2 separate regions of the Homo sapiens genome follow, and region 1 is linked to region 2. Evidence: fine-mapped expression QTL. A gene starts in region 2. The other region holds a variant in brackets. All regions are shown on one strand. Distances are from middle to middle. Region 1 overlaps PDLIM7 (PDZ and LIM domain 7). Region 2 holds the start of B4GALT7 (beta-1,4-galactosyltransferase 7).

The links. PIP is the estimated chance that this variant, and not a neighbour inherited with it, causes the effect.
Region 1: its variant is the best candidate, but not a certain one, in a credible set for the expression of B4GALT7 in whole blood (INTERVAL, PIP 0.81).

The regions. Positions count from the first base shown.
Region 1 is chr5:177,483,545-177,494,413 of GRCh38, forward strand. It overlaps PDLIM7 (PDZ and LIM domain 7), which reads right to left. Exons shown (of 13, transcript NM_005451.5): 3 at 8,982-9,133; 4 at 8,861-8,891; 5 at 8,263-8,381; 6 at 7,466-7,602; 7 at 7,326-7,362; 8 at 6,227-6,288; 9 at 5,849-6,083; 10 at 4,524-4,704; 11 at 526-646; 12 at 323-438; 13 at 1-186. The coding sequence ends at 100. Among named protein-coding and RNA genes, the nearest start is that of PDLIM7, 8.6 kb to the right of the region's middle. RefSeq lists enhancers at 472-1,187, 7,230-8,195, 7,964-8,258, 8,290-8,833, 8,834-9,375 and 1 more and a silencer at 8,053-8,152. The variant C/T (reference allele first, on the strand shown) is at 7,352.
Region 2 is chr5:177,596,685-177,604,981 of GRCh38, forward strand. It overlaps B4GALT7 (beta-1,4-galactosyltransferase 7), which reads left to right and starts at 3,448. Exons shown (of 6, transcript NM_007255.3): 1 at 3,448-3,576; 2 at 7,495-7,857. The coding sequence starts at 3,527. TMED9 (transmembrane p24 trafficking protein 9) reads left to right here. Exons shown (of 5, transcript NM_017510.6): 5 at 1-558. RefSeq lists enhancers at 2,601-2,700, 2,901-3,080 and a silencer at 3,261-3,800.

The DNA.
Region 1 (10,869 bases), 110 kb before region 2:
GGTTAAGGCAACCATTGCCAGCCCTACCCAGAAATGCAGGGCCACGACTCCAGGCCCCTCAGGCTAGGGGCCACCGCGGCAGCTGTGGGCAGAAGGGGCTCACACATGAGAGAAGGCATGGCTCTTGCAGAGAGGCCTGTCCTTCTTGGAGTAGAAGGTCTTTCCTTCCAGGTTGATCTGACATATCTAAGGACAGCAAAGGCCCAGTCACATGGGGTTGGGGGCAGCAGGAGAGGCCCCTTCCCAACTTCTCCTGCATCTCCTGGGGAATGAACAGAGGGCCGGTGGGCTTGGGGCTCAGTTCGAGGGGCGGGGCTCTCACCGCACAGACGAAGCAGGTGTCATGCCAGCTGAAGCCCAGGGCCTCCAGGAAGCGGTCCCCAGCGTCGATCTTGAAGTCACAGCCATGGCATTTCGTGCCAAACATCTTCTCATAGTCTGAGAATGGGGGCAGAGAGAAAGAGGACCTGGATTCATGCCTGCCCCATGCACCATCCCTCCTCACCCTCACTGGCCAGTGGGTACCTCGCTCGCAATAGGGCACGCCCTCCTCCATGTAGAAGGCCCTGTTCCGGATGGGCGTCTTGCAGGCAGCACAGGTAAAGCAGTGCACGTGCCAGGTCATCTTCAGGGCGTGCATGATCTCCTGGAAGGAGGTCCCAGTCACTCGGCAGGCTCAGGCCCCTCCTGCCCTGCCCTGGGTCACGGGAACACAGGAGGGCTGGCCGCAAGCCCTGTTCCTTCTCGCGGTAAACACTACATCTAACTGTTCAGGACTCCCACACCTCCATCTCCAACTCCAAGGTCTCTGAGTGGACGACCACTGCGCCTTCAGACTTGCCATGTCCAGCACTCAGTTCCTGATTCCCTCACCCCAAACCTCTCCTCCCACAGCCATCCCCATCACGCGGATGGCAACTCCATTCTCCTGTCTGCTGCAGCCAAACACACCCTCCTCTCACACCCCACACCAGGTCCACCAGGAAATCCAGTGGGGCCCACCCCCAAGGCACATCCAGATTCTGAGTGCTTCTCACAGCCTCCCTGAAGTGAGGTAAGCCATGGCCATCTGGCCCGTGGGACCACATAACAACTGGCCTACAAGCTCCTCTCTCTGATCCCAGCTGCCACAGCGTGCCCCTGCAACCCAAGACAGGCCTTCTCCCCCTGCATGAAACTGTGTACTGCTTCCCATTGCTCCCAGCAAGAGCCAAGCCCCATGCAGAGGCTGGAGGCCAGCAGGTCTGACCTCGTTCCCAACCGTCTCCGCCACTGCTCTCCCTTGCGTTCTCACCTTGCCTCTGCACACTGGCCTCTTGCCTGAAACTGGCACACCAGGCACACTCCTGTCCTGGGCTTGACACCGGCTGTCCCCTCTGCCTGGACTGCTCTGCCCCAGATATCTCTAGGCTCACCCCTCACCCCCTTCAAGTTTCTGCTCGAATGCAGTCTTCTCCATGAGGGCCCACTCTGACCACACCAGCAGCAGCCAGCTGCCTTCCCTGCACCACGCACCCCAGCACTTGTCGCTCTGCTCTTTCCTGTTTTCCGTAACGTGATCTAACATTACTTCCAGGCAACCTACTTATTGCGCTTATTGCTTACAGTCTGCCTCTCCCCTCTTCTTCCAGCCAAAATGTAAGGCCCAGAAGGGCAGGAAGCATCAACTGTTTTGTTAGCTGATCTATCCCCACAGTGCCTGGCCCTTTGTGGGTGAGTCGACTGGCCTCCGCAGGAGGTGGGAAGGGGCAGAGGCACAAGGGGCTGAGCTCTCCCTGGGCTGGGCTGTTCATCCCTAGGACCCTCGGGGCCAGCCGGGGCCAGCCAGGGCCAGCAGTATTCACATCTGGAGCAGGCAGAGGGCAGCATGGGGCCTCGAGGCGGTATGAGGGTCCAAGATGTGTGGGTCTGGCCAGACCTTGACCTTCTCAAGTCTTGGTTTCTTCCCTTGTGAACTGGGAAGCTAATCCCAGCCTTGTGAGGCTGTTATGAGGATGGCCCTGAGTTTAAATCCAGGGATCCCAGATCCAATCCCTGCAAGGGCCAAGTGGGGACTGTGTCACACGGAGGAGGACCTCTTCTTCTGGGAGCAGTACTACTGGTTCATTCAGGAATGCCTGCCTGGCTCAGGCTGAAATCTAGGTGTTAAAGAGAAATCTGCTGGGCGCAGTGGCTCACGTCTGTAATCCCAGTGCTTTGGGAGGCCAAGGTGGGAGGATCGCTCGAGGCCAGGAGTTCGAGACCAGCCTGGGCAACATAGCAAAACCTCATCTCTACAAAAAGATTTAAAAATCTGCTGAGCATGCTGGTGGGCACCTCTAGTCCTAGCTATTTGGGAGGCTGAGGTGGGAGGATCCTCTGAGCCCAGGAGATCAAGGCTGCAGTGAGCAGTGATCATGCCACTGCACTCCAGCCTGGGCAACAGAGCAAGACCCTATCATTATACATAAAGAAATAAAAAGCAGGAGATCTCACTTTCCCTCTGCCTCCCAAGTAGCTGGGACCACAGGTGCATGCCACCACACTTGGCTAATTTTCTAATTTTTTTTTTTTTGTAGAAACAGGGGTCTTGCTATGGTGCCCATGCTGGTCTTGAACTCCTGGGCTCAAGCAATCCTCCCACCTTGGCCTCCCAAAGTGCTGGGATTACAGGCATGAGCCACTGCATCATGCAGGCAAATCTTCTGATTTTTTAAATTGTTTGCTACTGATTTTAAAATGAAACAGTGTGGGCCAAGCAAGACATAAGTGTGGGGGACATGTAGCCTTCGGATGGTGCATTTCTGCCCTCCACAACACCTGTACCCCATCTTACATCTACCTTGCAACCGTGCCGGCCCTAGCATAGTGCCACCCTTCTCTTCAGTGAGGCCCAGAGAGAGCAACTAGCCCCTGCTCACACAGCCAGTAGATCACAGAAATAGGTTTTCTGCCCATGTCTGGCTGGCTCTTCTCACTGTCTGGTGTTGCCTGTTTTAGAGGAGCAGACAAGGTCACAGTGAAGGAACTTGGGCTTTGAGCTGGTGGGAGAGGGGGCTCTACCAGGGGTGTGGGCTGGTAGGGCAGGAGCCCAAGGCTGGGAGGCAGATTTCTCTTTCTTTTTTTCTTTTTGAGACAAGAGTCTCGCTCTGTCGCCCAGGCTGGAGTGCAGTGGCGCGATCTCGGCTCACTGCAAGCTCTGCCTCCCAGGTTCACGCCATTCTCCTGCCTCAGCCTCCCGAGTAGCTGGGACTACTCCACCATGCCCGGCCAATTTTTTTGTATTTTTAGTAGAGATGGGGTTTCACCGTGTTAGCCAGGATGGTCTCAATCTCCTGACCTCGTGATCCGCCCATCTCGGCCTCCCAAAGTGCTGGGATTACAGGTGTGAGCCACCGTGCCTGGCCCTTTTTTTTTTTTTTTTTTTTTTTTTTTTTTTTTTTTGCTGTCTCCCAGGCTGGAAGGCAGTGGCACAATCTTGGCTCACTGCAACCTCCACCTCTCAAGATCAAGCGATTCTCCTGCCTCAGCCTCCCAAGTAGCTGGGACTACAGGTGCGCCAGCACACCCAGCTAATTTTTTTATTTTTAGTAGAGACAGGGTTTCACCATATTGGCCAGGCTGGTCTTGAACTCCTGACCTCAGGTGATCTGCCCACCTCGACCTCCCAAAGTGCTGGGATACAAGCATCAGCCACTGCATCGGCCACTCTCCCATTCTTGCCGACTGATGGAACCCCCAGTTTTGCTGGACACATGGGTGCCCAAAATAAAGACTATATTTCCCAGCCTCCGTTGCCACTGGGTGTGGTCATGTGACTGGGTTCTGACCAACAGGATGAAAGCAGAGGTTCAGGTGGCAGCATCCTCTAAGGATGGACGCCATGGGGCTCTGTCCCCTTTCTTCTCCTTCCGACTTCCTGCTGGCTGGAAGGTGAGCATTTTGGCGGAGGCTGAAGTGTCATCTTGCACCATGAGTGGTAAGTAAGCAGGTGCTGCCAACAGTCAAGCAACAAGGCGGAGCCTGGGTCCACCAGATCAGTCCCAGACCACCCACCCCGGGATGTTTTTAGATGAGAAATAAGCCACCATTATTTTGAGTTTCCCACTGCTCGTGGTCAAGGTAAACCTCACTAATATGAACATCACCACACAGAGCTCTCTGGCTACTCCTGGCAGCCCTGGCTCTGGATCCAGAAATGAGGAGGACGCATGAGACAGAGCAGCTTCAGCGTGTCAAGTTGGCCGTTCTGTCATTTCACCAGGGCAGGGAGAGCCCAAAGTGGGAGTCAGGAGGGCCCAGGGCTTCTCCTGGCTTGGTCCTCCTGCTCTTTGCAGCCTTGGGCGGTTTCTGAGCAGGAACATGGTCATTTGTTAAGAGCATCCTGACTAATGCAGGGTGAGGCCAGTACAGCAGCCCATTTATTACGCTGGTAAGGACCCGGAGGGCTCACTCGGGGAGAGACCTGGACTGTGGGTTTCCCAGCAGCCCTCGTTCCCACTGACAGGCTTGGGACCACCTCCCCGCCAGCCAGCCCTACTCACGCCTGTAATCTTCTTCTTGCACTTGGCACAGCTGGGTGCATAGCGCACGTCATAGCATGGTGGGCAGAAGATGGCGCCCTTCTCCTCAAAGAAGCCACCCTCTTCCAGGACCTTCCCACACTGGCTACACACAAACTCCTCCGGGTGGTACGCGTGGCCCAGCGCCACCAGGTAGCGGCCCCTGCAGGGAGGCGAGAGCGGTCAGAGGGAGCACACGCAGAGAGGTGGGGGTCTTGGCCCCCTTCAGGTTGACTGACCACCCACCAGGAGGCCTTGGGAGGGACAGTTCATTCTCCCCATTTTCCACATAGGATAGAAGACAGGCTTGGGAAGTGACCGTGGCAGCCGTGAAGCTTACAGAGCCAGTCCGCCACACTGAACTGCTGGTGACAGGAGAGGCAGCTTTAGAGCAGGGAGGACCCCGGGAGGAAGGGCTGACGACTGGAGCCTCATAAAAGCTGAGCCGCCCCTGGGCAAACCCTGGAGCTGCCCTGTCCTGCTGGCCTGCCTGTTCTACCTGGCAAGAGCTGATAGAGTCGGCTGGGCACAGTGGCTCACACCTGTAGTCCCAGCACTTTGGGAGGCCAAGGCAGGCCTGAGATCACCTGAGGTGAGGAGTTTGAGACCAGCCTGGCCAACATGGTAAAACCCCGTCTCTACTAAAAATACAAAATTAGCCAGGCATGGTGGCGGGTGCCTGTAATCCCAGCTACTCAGGAGGCTGAGGCAGGAGAATCTCTTGAACCCAGGAGGCAGAGGTTGCAGTGAGCCGAGATCGCGCCACTGCACGCCAACGTGGGCAACACAGTGAGACTCTGTTTCAAAAAAAAAAAAAAAAGAGCTGACAGAGATGAGAGCAGGCCAGGCCTGCGAATTAGGAAGGCTCTAGAATCCGGCACGCTGATGCTGGGGGGTGTTTGATGCTGCTTGGCCCCACGGGGCAGTGCACAGAGGGAGTGGCTCCAGGCCTGTATGCTCTGAGAGCAGAGGGAGACAGAGAGCAGGAGGGAGGGGCAGACGCGCTGGGAGGGGGCAGGCCCCTCTTTGCCCAGAGAGCAGCAAAGGTAGGGGTGCAGCTTCAGCCTATGGTTGGCCCTTCGGCTATTTCGCCACGGCAGATGCTGCTAGCAGTTGTTGTGGGTGGGCTGGGGTAGGTAGCGTGGGATTAAGAATGGGAGGACCCAGCCCAGGTCCCTACTCCTACTCCAGCTGAGAACTGAATCCTTATTCCCCCCAGTCGCAGCTGAGGCAAGACAGGTGGGCAGACAGGTGGGGCTGGGCTGCAGGATGGGAAAGCCAGGGTCGGACAGGAACAGGCCACCCACCGGATGACCTTGTGGCACTGGTGACACACGGGAGTCTTGCCGTTGTTGCTGCCCCCTCCTGGCACCCCTCCGGCAGCTGCCTGCACAATGGAGGTGCGGCTCTGCAGCGGCGTGGGCGTGGCCGGCTGGCTGTGCCGGGTCAGCACTGTGCTCGTTTTGTCCGGGGCATAGCGCTCGGCAAACGCAGGGTCCACAGCCCAGGGCGGGCGGCTGGTAGGGCTGGGGGCGGTAGGGCCTGCCGGGGAAAGTGACTCTAAAGGGGTGCCCAGGGACCCCAAAGGACGGGGGTGGAGCCCCAGGCAGCTGAGAGAAGCCCACCACCCCCATGCCCCTGGAGGCTGCCCACCCTTGCCCAGGCCCGAGCCCACTCCCTCTCACCAGGCCAGGGCTCCTGGGGTGTAGATGAGGCTGGGGCTGGGGCTTCTGTCCTGGGCACCTGGCTGCAAGATCTGCCATTCAAGGCCCTGCATGGCTGAGCTTCCTGACATGGCCCCACCCCCCAACCTGGGTCCTGCTGGCCCCACGGGAGATGACTGGGGGCGTGGAAACTGCCGAGTTGGATTCCAGGTCCCACTGGGGTAGGGATGGGAAGGGCAGCTTCTCCTAGCAATGTCCAGTTAGCTGGTGTGCGGTCTCTAGCTGGGAGACGAGGCAGGGCTCCCGCTTCTGAGGCAGCTCCTGGGGTTCCCCTCATGCCAGGAAGCCATCTGTGATGGCAGGGCAGGGCCCCTTTGCCAGGTACCCCCTCCCACTGAAAACGAGGACGGCAGGGCCCAAACAGTCCGAACCACGAAACACCCCCACACCCCAAATGCAAACCAGGTCCACAAAGATAGAAGACAGGCAGAGCAAGCAGGGCTGAGAATGTTTATTCCATGCCCAAGGCAGCACAGACCTGGCAGACAGCAGTACCACAGGGCAAAGAGGGAAGGCAGTGTCAGATGAACCCAGGTGGGCGGCCAGGGCCAGGCCAGCAGGAGGCTCAGGCCAGGGGCACGAAAGGGGGGGTGAGGTAGGCAGAAGCTGGAGGCACTAAGGGGGTGCCCTGGGCAGGAGGAACAGAAAGAGGGAGGCAGAGAGGGCAGCCGGCTGGAGAGGGCCGGGCTACGACTGCACGTTGAGCACGTGGGCAGAGCGCTGGTGGTGCCAGTCCCGGAGGCGGGTGTAGCGTGGGCTCTGCAGCTCCAGGACATACTTTTCCCTGAGGGGCAGAGAGAGAGGGAGGAAGAAGTGGAAGGAAGGAGAGATGGAAGGGAGGCAGGGAGGGAGGAGGGAAGGAAGGAGGGAGGGAAGAAATGAAAGAAGGAAGGAAGGAGGAAGGGAAGGAAGGAAGGAAGGAAGGAAGGAAGGAAGGAAGGAAGGAAGGAAGGAAGGGAGAATTGAGAGCCCCAGCTGGGAGCCTCAGGAGTAGACACAGGGCAGTAGCTGGAATGGAAGAGGCAGGAGGTGGGAGAGGGGCTGGTGCCCGTCCCTGTACCTTGATTTCTTCAGGTGCTCCTCATC[C/T]GGGTCTTGCACTGAGAGGGCAGAGGCAGGCATTGACCAAAAAAGACACAGGGTCAGGGATCACGCCTGGGCTGGGGGCGAGGAAAGTACCCCCTGCCCTGGGCTGGCACTTACTGAACTCGGTGCCTGTGAGGTGGGCAAGGATGCGGAAGGAACGCGACTGGCCTGTCCCCGGCCGCGGCCGCCAGTCCTCTGTGTTCTCCATCAGCCGCTGCTTGCTGGCATCTGGGACCAGCGGTCGGAGCGGCTGTCTGTGGGGAGGGTGTGGCTCAGAACCCCACACTGGGGGTGGGCGGTGGGGGCAGCCCCTCCCAGGATTTGGTGCATGTGGGTTTGGGTTACAGTGATGGGAGGGAGTGGGTAAGGGTGAGGCCAGGAGCCCTGCTGGGCGGGTAGGTGAGAGGACAGGAGGGCGAAGTGGAGAGGAGGGCAGCCAGGGTGGGGAGGGGCCGCCACCCAGAGTGCCAAAAGGAAGAAGAAAGGCACAGGCAGAGGGGGGCTCACTGACTTGTCAGGGGTCTGCACCTGTGAAGGAAATAAGACAGACAGACAGATAAAGGGACAAAGGGACAGACACAGGAGAGGAAGAAAGACGGGGAGGGGTCAGAACAGCCGGGGACAAGGCGGCACTGAGTGTCTGGGGCTCAGCTGGCCCGACACCACAACCCAACCCCCAGCCGCCAGCAGGGGGCGCGGCGTCATTCAGAGACCCCTCCCCAGGGCGGTGCCCTGCAAGGCGCCACAGCCTCGGGAGGGGCCCTGTGCCTGCAGCCCCACCCCGGCCGCCAGGGGGCGCTGCCGCACGGTTCCGCCGGGCTGGGGCGCAGCACAGACTGAGCAGCAGCGGGCAGCGGGCGTGGGGCCACAGTGGGCCTGATGGCGTGGGCGCGGGCGGGCAGGGGCCGACGTACCCATTCTGCTGCGGGGCGCTGTCAGCGGGCGGGGGCGCCCCAAAGGGCCGGGCCGTCTTGTTGAGGGAGACGCTGGGTGCAAAGGTGTACCGCGGAGGGTCCGCGGCGGGGGCGGAGGCCTGGGCAGAGACACAGCCGGGCAGGGCGGGCGGGCAGGGTAAGGTGGGGGCCTGGGTGGAAGTGGGGCGCCTGCAGCAGAGGACAGCGGCAGCTCCAGCCCCCCACCCCCACCCCACCCCCTACATCTATTTGGAGGCTACGGGGAGAGGACGACTCAGGTTTCAAGGGGCCCATTTGGGAGTGGCGATCTCAGTCCACGCAGGACCGAGGGCTGACCGAGTGCGGGCGAGCACGCAGCGCCGGCGGCGGGAGGCAGCAGGCGGACAGACAGGCGGACAGACAGGCGGACATGCGTGGTGCCAGGACCGTGCAGCAGCCCCTGGCTCAACTCCAGGGCCCTAGACCCGCCTTAGCTCCGGTTTCTGCCCTCCACTCCCGGCCAGGGATTGGGGTACCGAGAATGTGCCAGGAGGGCGAGCAGGCCTGGCCGTCCAAGCCCACACCGCCCACCGCCCGGATGTCCCGGCCAGCCTCGTACCTTCTGCGGTTTGCTCTGAACCGGCTGGGCCCTGGAGGAGAAGGAAAGCGTGACAGCGGGCCGGGCCCGCAGGGATCCCCACTGCCAGCGCGGGCGCACCCATCCATGTCCACCCGCATACCTGCTGAGGCCCAGGCTGAGGCGCTCCCCGCAGGCCCGGATCTTGTTCTGAGCTTCGATGTGTGTGAGGCTACCCGCATTCTCGCCATCGATGCTCAGCACCCAGTCACCCACGGCCACTCCGGCCTGCGCCGCTTTGCCCCCAGGAGTGAGCTGTGGAGAGAGAAGCAAAGTGACCGAGGCCCTGGACCCTGCAGACCCAAGCCAGGCTGACGGTGGTAACACTGCCCCACCCAAAGCTGTCCCACTTCCAGAACCCAGAGAGCTCTTCATTCAACATAGTTCTAGGCAGCTGCTGGACACTAAAGCAACCCAGGAGGTGGTGGCGCTCACCTGAGCTTCACAATTTCCCAGTCACACTGCTTATTTATTCACTGCCAGACCCTCTCCCTCAGGTGGTGCTCACCTGAGCTTCCCCAGTCACGATGCTTATCTATTCACCGCCACCACCCTCCCCCACAGTCCAGAAATTGCTATGATGTCCACAAACAGCCACGCTCAGGCTAAAGCCCAAGTGTTTCAGGAGGACCATTGCCTTTTGAGGCTCCTGCTGGCCTCCTGCCCAGGCCACTCCACCTACCAGATATGCCCTCTGGCCCATGCAGGGGGCAGCTTCCTCCCCGAAACCACCGGGGGCTCTTATGGACCTCTCACCCCCCAGCACCCTGTCGGGGGCCATCTATAGGGGTCTGCTGGGACCCTTTGAGAGCCAGGAACAGGCCCTGTTATCTCCCGGTTCCCTGTGAACACTGCCTGAATGGGACCTAAGTTGACAGCTGGGACTTCGTAGGCCATACATGGCTGTCACTCCCAAGCCCTCGACTGCCAATTTCCCCTGACCCCAATCCTTCAGGCTCTTGAGCTGGGAGTCCCTGGTTCCTGTGGCAATGAGTAGAGACAGTAGGCTGGGAGAAATGGCTGCCACCAGCATGAGCTGAGACCATCAGGAATGACTTTGAGGAAGCGGTGGGCCTCGGTAAAGGAGAATGGCGTGTGCTGCCTAGCGGGTGAGAGTTCACTTACGATGGCTTTGAATGCCAGGGGAAGGGACCAGGACTTGGCTTTGAAGGTAGAGGGGCTACTGGCAGTTTTAATGTCTGGGATTGGGTATCTCCCAGGCCCTGAGAGGGTGACCCTGATAAACCCCTTCCAGGCCTCTAGCCCAGCCCCAGCAACACAGGCAGGGCAGCTTGACTGGGTCCAAGCCTAAGGGACCACCCAGCCATCTGGCAAGAGGCCTGGCACTGCATCAAGTAGGCTTTTGTGAGGCAGTGCTGGAAGACAATTTCACTGGGTGGGGGGGATCTGGGGGGGTCCAGGCTGCCAGTGGCCCCAGGAGGCTCCTCAGGTGGGTCAGTGCACAGACTGAGCTGAGGCAGGGAGAGGGGAGGCAAGAGGTTTCAGAGAGATGTCAGAGGGCAGGGCAGCCAGGCACAGAGCTTGACAGCACTGGGAAAAGAAAGGCGAGCTGGGCTCAACATGACCTCTTGCTTGCGTAGGAGGTCAGAAGGCTAAGAGAGCTCGGCGGCCCCTTCCTCACTCGCTAGATAAGAAGACTTGCTTCAGTTTATTGAGCACCAACTATGCTACATATTGACACTGAATCTTCCAACAACCTTGTGGAGTAATCTGGGATTTTACCCATTTTGCACTTGCAAATGTACACAGAGAGGTTAAACAACTTGCCTCAAGTCACCCAGCTAGTAAGAGGCAGAGCCAGGAAGTGTCTCTGACCCTAAGGCTCCACCACTGTGGGCCACCTCTGCTGAGCATGGGGGCCCAACTGAGGGGTCAGCCCACCTGGAGACACCCTGAGCCACTCCCTCACCTTTAGTTCAATCCAACTAAATCAACCCCTTATACTGTGTATGGGGAAGTGACACCCCAGA
Region 2 (8,297 bases):
CCTCGAGCTCCAGGTAAGCGATTTGGACATGCCCACCTTTCAAGAGGGGCTGCAGGCACCCACAGGCACAAGCTGAAGGCAGCAGCTTGGCTGGCTTAATACTGAGCAGGTGGTGGGGTAAATGCCTGCCCCCCTCCCTCTGGCCTCTGGGCCCTTTGCAGTAATCACCCAGGGTCTGGTAAAGCCACTGAGAGCCCTACTGGCACCTCAGAATCACAGTGTTATTGATCAGGGATGTGAGGCTGCTGTTGGGGGTTGGGGGAGGCAAATGGGCAGGCAGTTTTGAGAAGAACCTTCTAATAAGAAATGTGAGGGAGGTTACAGCAGTGTGTGAGAAAGACCAGGAAGAAGGAGACAAGTTTGGGGGCTGCTTCCCCTAATGGGATGATGCAATCTGGGCTCATGCTGCCAACTAATTCTTCCACATGAAAAAAAAAAGTTTTTTGGCGGGCACGGTGGTTCACACCTGTAATCCCAGCACTTTGGGAGGCTGAGGTAGGTGGATGGCCTGAGGCCAGGAGTTTGAGACCAGCCTGGCCAACATGGTGAAACCTCATCTCTACTAAAAATACAAAAAATGAGCCAGGTGTGGTGGCGCATGCCTGAAATCCCAGCTACTTGGGAGGCTGAGGCGGCAGAATTGCTTGAACCCAGGAGACAGAGGTTGCAGTGAGCCAAGATCACACCACTACACTCCAACCTGGGCTACAGTGAGACTCTGTCTCAAAAAAAAAAAAAAAAAAAGGCCGGGAGCGGTGGCTCACACCTGTAACCCCAACACTTTGGGAGGCCAAGGCGAGCAGATCACGAGGTCAGGAGATCGAGACCAACCTGGCTAACATGATGAAACCCCATCTCTACAAAAAAAAAAAAAAAAAAAAATACAAAAAATTAGCCAGGCGTGGTGGTGGGCGCCTGTAGTCCCAGCTCCTTGGGAGGCTGAGGCAGGAGAATGGCGTGAACCCAGGAGGCGGAGCTTGCAGTGAGCCGAGATCACTTCACTGCACTCCAGCCTGAGCAACGGAGCAAGTCTCCATGTCAAAAAAAAAAAAAAAAGTATTTTTAAAGAACAGCTTTAAAAGTGCAGAAAAATTGTGAAGACATTTTCCCTATTAGTAACATCATGCATTACTTTATCCAGACTTCCTTAGTTTTTACCTACTGTCCTTTTTCTGTTCCAGGATTCCACATCACATTTAGTCACTGTGTCTCCTTAGGCTCCTTTTGGCTGTGACAGTTTCTTAGACCTTCCTTGTTTTTGATGATTCCTTGACTGTTTTGAGGAGTACAGGTCAGGTATTTTGTACGATTTCTCAGCTAGGATTTGTCTGATGTTTTTCTCATGATTAGACTAGAGTTGTGGGTTTTTGAAAAGAGACCACAGGCTGGGCATGGTGGCTCACGCCTGTAATCGCAGCACTTTGGGAGGCAGAGGCAGGCGGATCACCTGAGGTCAGGAGTTCGAGACCAGCCGCCAACATGGTAAAACCCCGTCTCTACTAAAAATACAAAAATTAGCCAGGCGTGGTGGCAGGCGCCTGTAATCCCAGCTACTCGGAAGGCTGAGACAGGAGAATTGCTTGACCCCGGGAGGCAGAGGTTGCAGTGAGCCGAGATCGTGCCACTGCACTCCAGCCTGACTGACAGAGTGAGACTCTGTCTCAAAAAATAAATAAATAAATAAAATAAAATAAAATAAAAAAGTAGAAAAGAGATCAGAGTTGAAGTGTCATTATCAACATGGCTCTTAGCTGGATATCACATTTAAAAATTAGATAATTTGGGTTTTCATTTGAGATCTGATTTCTTGAGAGTGTGAATCTGACAATCTGAAGTAGAGCTTCATCCTGATATAGTAACAGCTAACCGGATGGAGTGGTCCCCTTTAGATGGGCTGTGCATTGACCACGGTTCTGGGGTAGGATGCAGTGCCCTGGGGGAGTCAACAGGAAGGGGAATGGGTGGATTATATACTTCCAGGTTTACGGGGTAAAGGGGTTACTGGGAATGATTCATTTCCCACCCACGGTGAAGTTCTCTCTGGAGCAGAGTGATTAAGATCATAGATTGTGGGGAAGAACAAAACAAAAACCCCAAACCCATAGATTTGCAACCAAACTACCTGATTTGCCTCTCTGTGCCTCAGTTCTCTCAATTTTAACTTGGGGATAAGCACCTACCGATAAGGACTACGTGAGATAACCCTCATGTAGTAAGAACTATTAACAATGACTGGCACATAATAAGAACTTAATAGATGTTTGCTATCTATTAGGAAACTTAAAAGTTTGCCTGGAAGAGCAGAGGAGGTCAAGTCTAACAATTGCCGCTTTCTTTCCCCAGGTAGGAGGCTAGTAGGAGGGGTGGGGGGGCTGGGGGTGAGGGGGATGGTTAAGTTCCCACGGTGACGGGGCAGATATGGGAACTCAGTCTCCTATTCCCTTCTTCAGTTCTCAGCTCCACCAAAGTACCCTTTTCCTGGATGACAGCTGTCATTTATATGGCGTTGAACTGTGTGCCTAGCGCTGCACAAGTGTTTGCACTTTCTCCTTGAATCCCCACAGCTACCATATAGAATAGGAGCCATTGATATACCCAGGTGAGGAAACAGATGCAGAGATGTGGCTTGGTCAAAACACAGCTGAATTGGCAGAGTCTAGTTTCTTTTTCTTTTTCTTTTCTTTTTTTTTTGACGGAGTCTCGCCCTGTCACCCAGGCTGGAGTGCAGTGGTGCGATCTCGACTCACTGCAAGCTCCGCCTCCTGGGTTCACACCATGCTCCTGCCTCAGCCTCCCGAGTAGCTGGGACTAACAGGCGCCCGCCACCACGCCCGGCTAATTTTTTGTATTTTTAGTAGAGACGGGGTTTCACCGTGTTAGCCAGGATGGTCTCGCTCTCCTGACCTCGTGATCCGCCCGCCTCGGCCTCCCAAAGTGCTGGGATTACAGGCGTGAGCCACCGCGCCCGGCAAGCAGAGTCGGGTTTCAAATTCAGTCAACTTGTCTTCAGGGCTCGGCTCCTAACGCCTGCGCGGGCTGTCAGCTGAACTCAGCGCCGAGCCGTGAGCTTGGCTTTGCCCCTCCAAGCTTGCGCGGAGAACGCGCCGCCTGGGCCGAGACGGGGACCCCGGGACGCTCCCGCCTCCCCTCGGAAAGAGGACGGAGATGCAGATTCTCCCCGAGCGTTGGTTTGGGAGTCTGGACTCTTAGGTCCAGTCCCAGCCCAGTGATTTGTTGGGAGGCCCTGGGCCTCTGGGCTTCAGTTTCTCGGGCTTCCAGGCGGGTCCCGGGGCGGCTAGGAAGGAGCCGCCCAGAGAGGGAGGCGCGCCCGCGCTGCTCGCAAGCAGAACCTTGGAGGCGGCGGCTCCGGGAGCTGGCGGCGCGGCCGGAGCGGCGGACCCGGCGGACCGGGGGGCGGGGCGGACAGGCCTGGGCGGAGCGGGAGGCGGAGGCGCCGCGTAGGCCCGGGAGGCCGGGCCGGCCGGGCTGCGAGCGCCTGCCCCATGCGCCGCCGCCTCTCCGCACGATGTTCCCCTCGCGGAGGAAAGCGGCGCAGCTGCCCTGGGAGGACGGCAGGTGAGCGGCGGCGGTGGGCCCGGGCCCCGTCCTCCCGGGCGCCGCTCCCTTCTCGGCCGCCGGCGGAATCTGGGAACCCGAGGCCATCACGTCTCCATGTCTGCGGGTTTCTGTGAGGGCGTGTGGTTCTCCCTGTGGGTCCCTGGCGCTCTGTTCCGGTTTCTGTCTGTCCCTGTGGGTCTCTGCCTCCCCCGCCCCCTCTCCCTTTCCGCGGCACTCGTCCTTCCCCCAGCACCTTCCCCCCGGCCCGTGGGTCCGTATTTCTCCATTGACTTCCCTTTGTGAGTTTCTGATCCCCTCTTTGCTAGTCTCTCTCGTTATGTGTTTCGTTGTGTCTGTGTTTCTCCACCAGCCTCCCTCTATCTGCATGCGGGTCTCTGACTCCGCTGACCTCTCACCATGGATTTGTGTTTCTCAATTTGTCTCTGATCCCTGAGGACGTGTATTCCGTTTCTCTGGTCTCTGCCTTCCTCATCACATCCATATAGCCTCAGACCCTACCCTTCCTCCTTAACACTTCCCCCCATCCTTCGCAGGCCACCAGCAGAACCCACCAGACAGAAGCTCCGTGCTCTGCCTGGCTGGTCACTGCCTGGCACGTACTAGACACTCCTTATACACGCATTAGTCCATTTCCTGTGCAGCTGTATTGGCCCTACGTGAAAGATGCGAGCTTGGCCCACACCTTAGCTAATTTTGTTTCTCACTAAAGCAGAATGGGGAAAGCGATTTGACTGCCTCCATTCGTGGGGCACTTGAGATGTGTCCCTGTAAGTCTTCTCACAGAACACATGACTGGATCTCCTCCTCGTGAATGACACCTCATTTCCTTCATGTTTCTTAAGTCCGTCAGGTGCCATAAGATTCTGGAATTTAGTGGCCACAACTTGTACTTTTGGGGATTTTTCAGACTTGGTGTTGAAAGGGGAAAACAGGAATATAATAGAAAGCGTGGACTAGCGTTCGACCTGGGCAGGAGTCCTCCGTAATTATGTGAGCAGAGACCCCTGCATCTGTCCGACCGCAGCCTTTCCGTCACTGAGCCAGTTATGACAGTATTGGCTCTGCAGGGCTGTGTGAGGATTAAAGGACCGCACACATGTAAAGAGCATGGCACTGCCTAGCACAACAGGAGGTGCCAGTTGTCTTCCCGTTACCTTTGCAGTTTTGAGGTCCTGTAACCAGAGCAGCTGAGGATTCAAACCTCGTAGTACGAAGGTCTGTATGAGACAAGAAAGGAAAGGTAACAGAGGAGCATTTCTATTTCCTGATCCTTTTCCATAGCTGTTTCCAGAGAAATTTACTGATGTCAATTCTGTGCTTTTGACACAGGGTTGGTGCAAAGATCCACGCAACTGATGCAGGCTAGTGTAGCTATCTAGTGTAGGCTCTGGAGCCAGCCTGCCTGGGTTTGAATCCGCCTTTTACTAGTCTTGGGCAGTGATTGATGAGGGAGACAAAGCCTCTTCTGGACTGCCCCTCAGAGCCAGGGTGGCCTGGGCCTGGGAGCCACTGGGACTGCAAATCTGGTTTGCCACCTGGTGGCACCAGGAACAATTGTTCTCGGTGTCCACTGTCCTGAGGAATTGGGACTCTGGGTTCAATCCAGTTGCTCTGCGGTTTGTGCTCTTAGAGCACAGGATGATGCCCATGGGGATGTGGTCCTCATAGGAGAGGGGAGCAGGGCCGAGGGAATTAGCGTGTGGACGTGCTCGGAGTACCCAGTCCACGCCGTTCCCCTGGATAATAGTCACTGCTTCTTTTCATGAAGGTGGGATATCACCCCATATCCATCTCTCCAGTCTCTACCCTGTCCCCAGAAAAAGCCCAGAGGGCAAGGGAGAATCTGTAGAGGTTCCAGCCTTCCCAGACCACTCTCAGGACTGGGCTGTGCTCCTCCCCAGCTGAATCCACCACCACAGGATAATGGGGGGTAAGTCAGAAGCCCTGGGGGGTTTCCTACCAGGCCACCTCTCAGCTGCGTGTGGAACCTGGGCCTGGCTGCAAGGCTACTGGCTTCCAGGTTGGCGGTCTCTCTAGAAAAAGGGAGGAGTTGGTCTGGCTTTAGCATGTGACTTAAGGCATGCCCTGACTGCCTTACCCCTTTCTGTAACTCACTTGGCAAGCTCTCTGCTGTCTGGCCTGTGCTTGCTGTGCTGGGGCCACAGATAAGAATCTGACACGGCCTGAGAAGCAAGGACACAAGGCATTACAAAAAAGTGGGAAGATGCCGTGGGAATACAAAAGTGGGAGCATTATGGGGGCAGGGGGCAGTGCTGGCCATGACATTGGAGTTCGGCTCTGAAGGATCAACAGGGGTCCTCAGGCAGATAAAGAAGGACATTTCAGGCAGAAGGAGCAGGCTGTGTGAGGGCTGGAGCAGGAAGGAATATAGCAAGTGGAGAAGCTCCGAGGTGCCCAACATGAGAACATGGGGCGAAGGCTTGGGAGCACCTGGAGTTGGGGCCAGGTCATGGAGGGCTTTGACTGTCAGGCCAAAGGGCTTGGCCTTTGTCTGGCAAACAGAGGAGGGTCATTCAGAAGACTGAAGGGGTCTGAGCAGGGCAAGGAACAGATGAGTGAGGAAGGATCAGAGGGGGACTTAGGAGATAGAATTTATTTATTTATTTATTTATTTATGAGATGGAGTCTCGCTCTGTTGCCCAGGCTGGAGTGCAGTGGCGTGATCTCAGCTCACTGCAACCTCCGCCTCCCAGATTCAAGCTATGCTTCTGCCTCAGCCTCCCAAGTAGCTGGGACTATAGGCGCGTACCACCACACCCAGCTAATTTTTGTATTTTTAGTAGAGATGGGGTGTTACCATATTTGCCAGGCTGGTCTTGAGCTCCTGACCTCGTGATGCACCTGCCTCGGCCTCCCAAAGTGCTGGGATTACAGGCGTGAGCCACCACGCCTGGCCAGGAGATAGAATTTATAAGACCTGATAGCTAATCGCTGACTCTTAAGATTGTGAAGTGGATTCCTTTGCAGATTACTTTGGGGAGAAGGTAGGGGGAGTACAGAGGAAGCTTCTCCCTTCATGGATTCCTCAGCTCCTGTCTCAGCATACTCAGGAACTTCCAGAGGAGCGGCAAAGGAATCTGGTGAATTCTGTTTCTTTGTATTTGCTAACCAAAAGGCTGTCTCCTGGCATCACCCCAGTGTCTGTGATGTTCAGCTGTTTTTCCAGTTTCTGAAATCAGTGCCTGTGCTGTACCCAGCCCTCATCTTTCTTTCCCTCTCCATCTCCCATCTTTTATCATGAGCTGCCTCTTGGACTAAAGGTTTGAGGCTCGTTCAGTGAACCGCCACTGACAGTTTGGGCCTTGCATTGCTTCGGGGGGCACGTCTGATCTTCCCAGAGTAAACATTGGTCATTTTACCTGGACTAATGCCAGCACACACCCGTGTCTGGGTGGCCTTTCTGGTCATTCTTGGAAGCAGGATGGAGCCACGGTTTCTGCTGGGGTGGATCTGTAGGGGAGCGGGTTTGGAAAGCAGTGGGTTGCATCTCTAAGGTGGGGACTCCTGTCATTGGCTCAGGACATTGAGCCACTATCGTGGGGAGGAGCACCTGCAAGTGACAGGAGCCTCCTCATCCTTGCCCTGAGCAGCTCTGACCAGGACTCAGTCACAGAAAGTAAGAGAGCATTGAGGAGCCGGGGCAGCTCTGTGAACTGGGAGTGGTTCAGAGGGCTTCCCGAGAGCGGGTGGCATGGGTTGGGTCTAGAGAGGCAAGCAGGATTCGGATGCATGGTAGTGGCATGAGCAGAAACATTAAAGTTGCTTCTGTACTAATTCCCAGGTGCTTGGGGTAGACGAGTTATGTGCAGCCTCCTCGTGGGGAGGCCAGAGAACGGGTCTGTCACAGGGCCAGCCCTGCCCCGCCCTCCTGACCCTGTCCCGCGCTTGCTCCAGGTCCGGGTTGCTCTCCGGCGGCCTCCCTCGGAAGTGTTCCGTCTTCCACCTGTTCGTGGCCTGCCTCTCGCTGGGCTTCTTCTCCCTACTCTGGCTGCAGCTCAGCTGCTCTGGGGACGTGGCCCGGGCAGTCAGGGGACAAGGGCAGGAGACCTCGGGCCCTCCCCGTGCCTGCCCCCCAGAGCCGCCCCCTGAGCACTGGGAAGAAGACGCATCCTGGGGCCCCCACCGCCTGGCAGTGCTGGTGCCCTTCCGCGAACGCTTCGAGGAGCTCCTGGTCTTCGTGCCCCACATGCGCCGCTTCCTGAGCAGGAAGAAGATCCGGCACCACATCTACGTGCTCAACCAGGTGGACCACTTCAGGTAGCGCCCGCCCCCACCCTCTCCCCTCGGCACCCCTGCCCGGGCTCAGGCTTCTCAGGCCCTGTGAGAGGCCACCTGGGGCAGGGGCAGGAGGGCGGGAGGTGGCAGACCCCTCTCACTGGGTGTGACAGGAACCTTTGGAGAGGGCCCTGATCTAATTTCCATTTTGAAAAGCTCACTGTGGCTGCCGTATGTGGAATGGATTATACCAGGGCAAGAGGAGAAGCAGGGAGAGCAGTTAGGTGGTCACTGCTGTGGTCTGCGGTGACAGTGGCTTGATGGCCTGGTGGGGGGTGGGTAGAGAGAGGTGCTGTGGAGGAAGCCCAGACAGGACTCCCTGGGGATTGGCCCGGGGATTAGGGAAAGGGAGGGTCAAGGCCACGGCTTTAAAGTTGCCCACAGTCTGGCGTTATCCTAAAATCCCTGCCCTTACCAAAAAG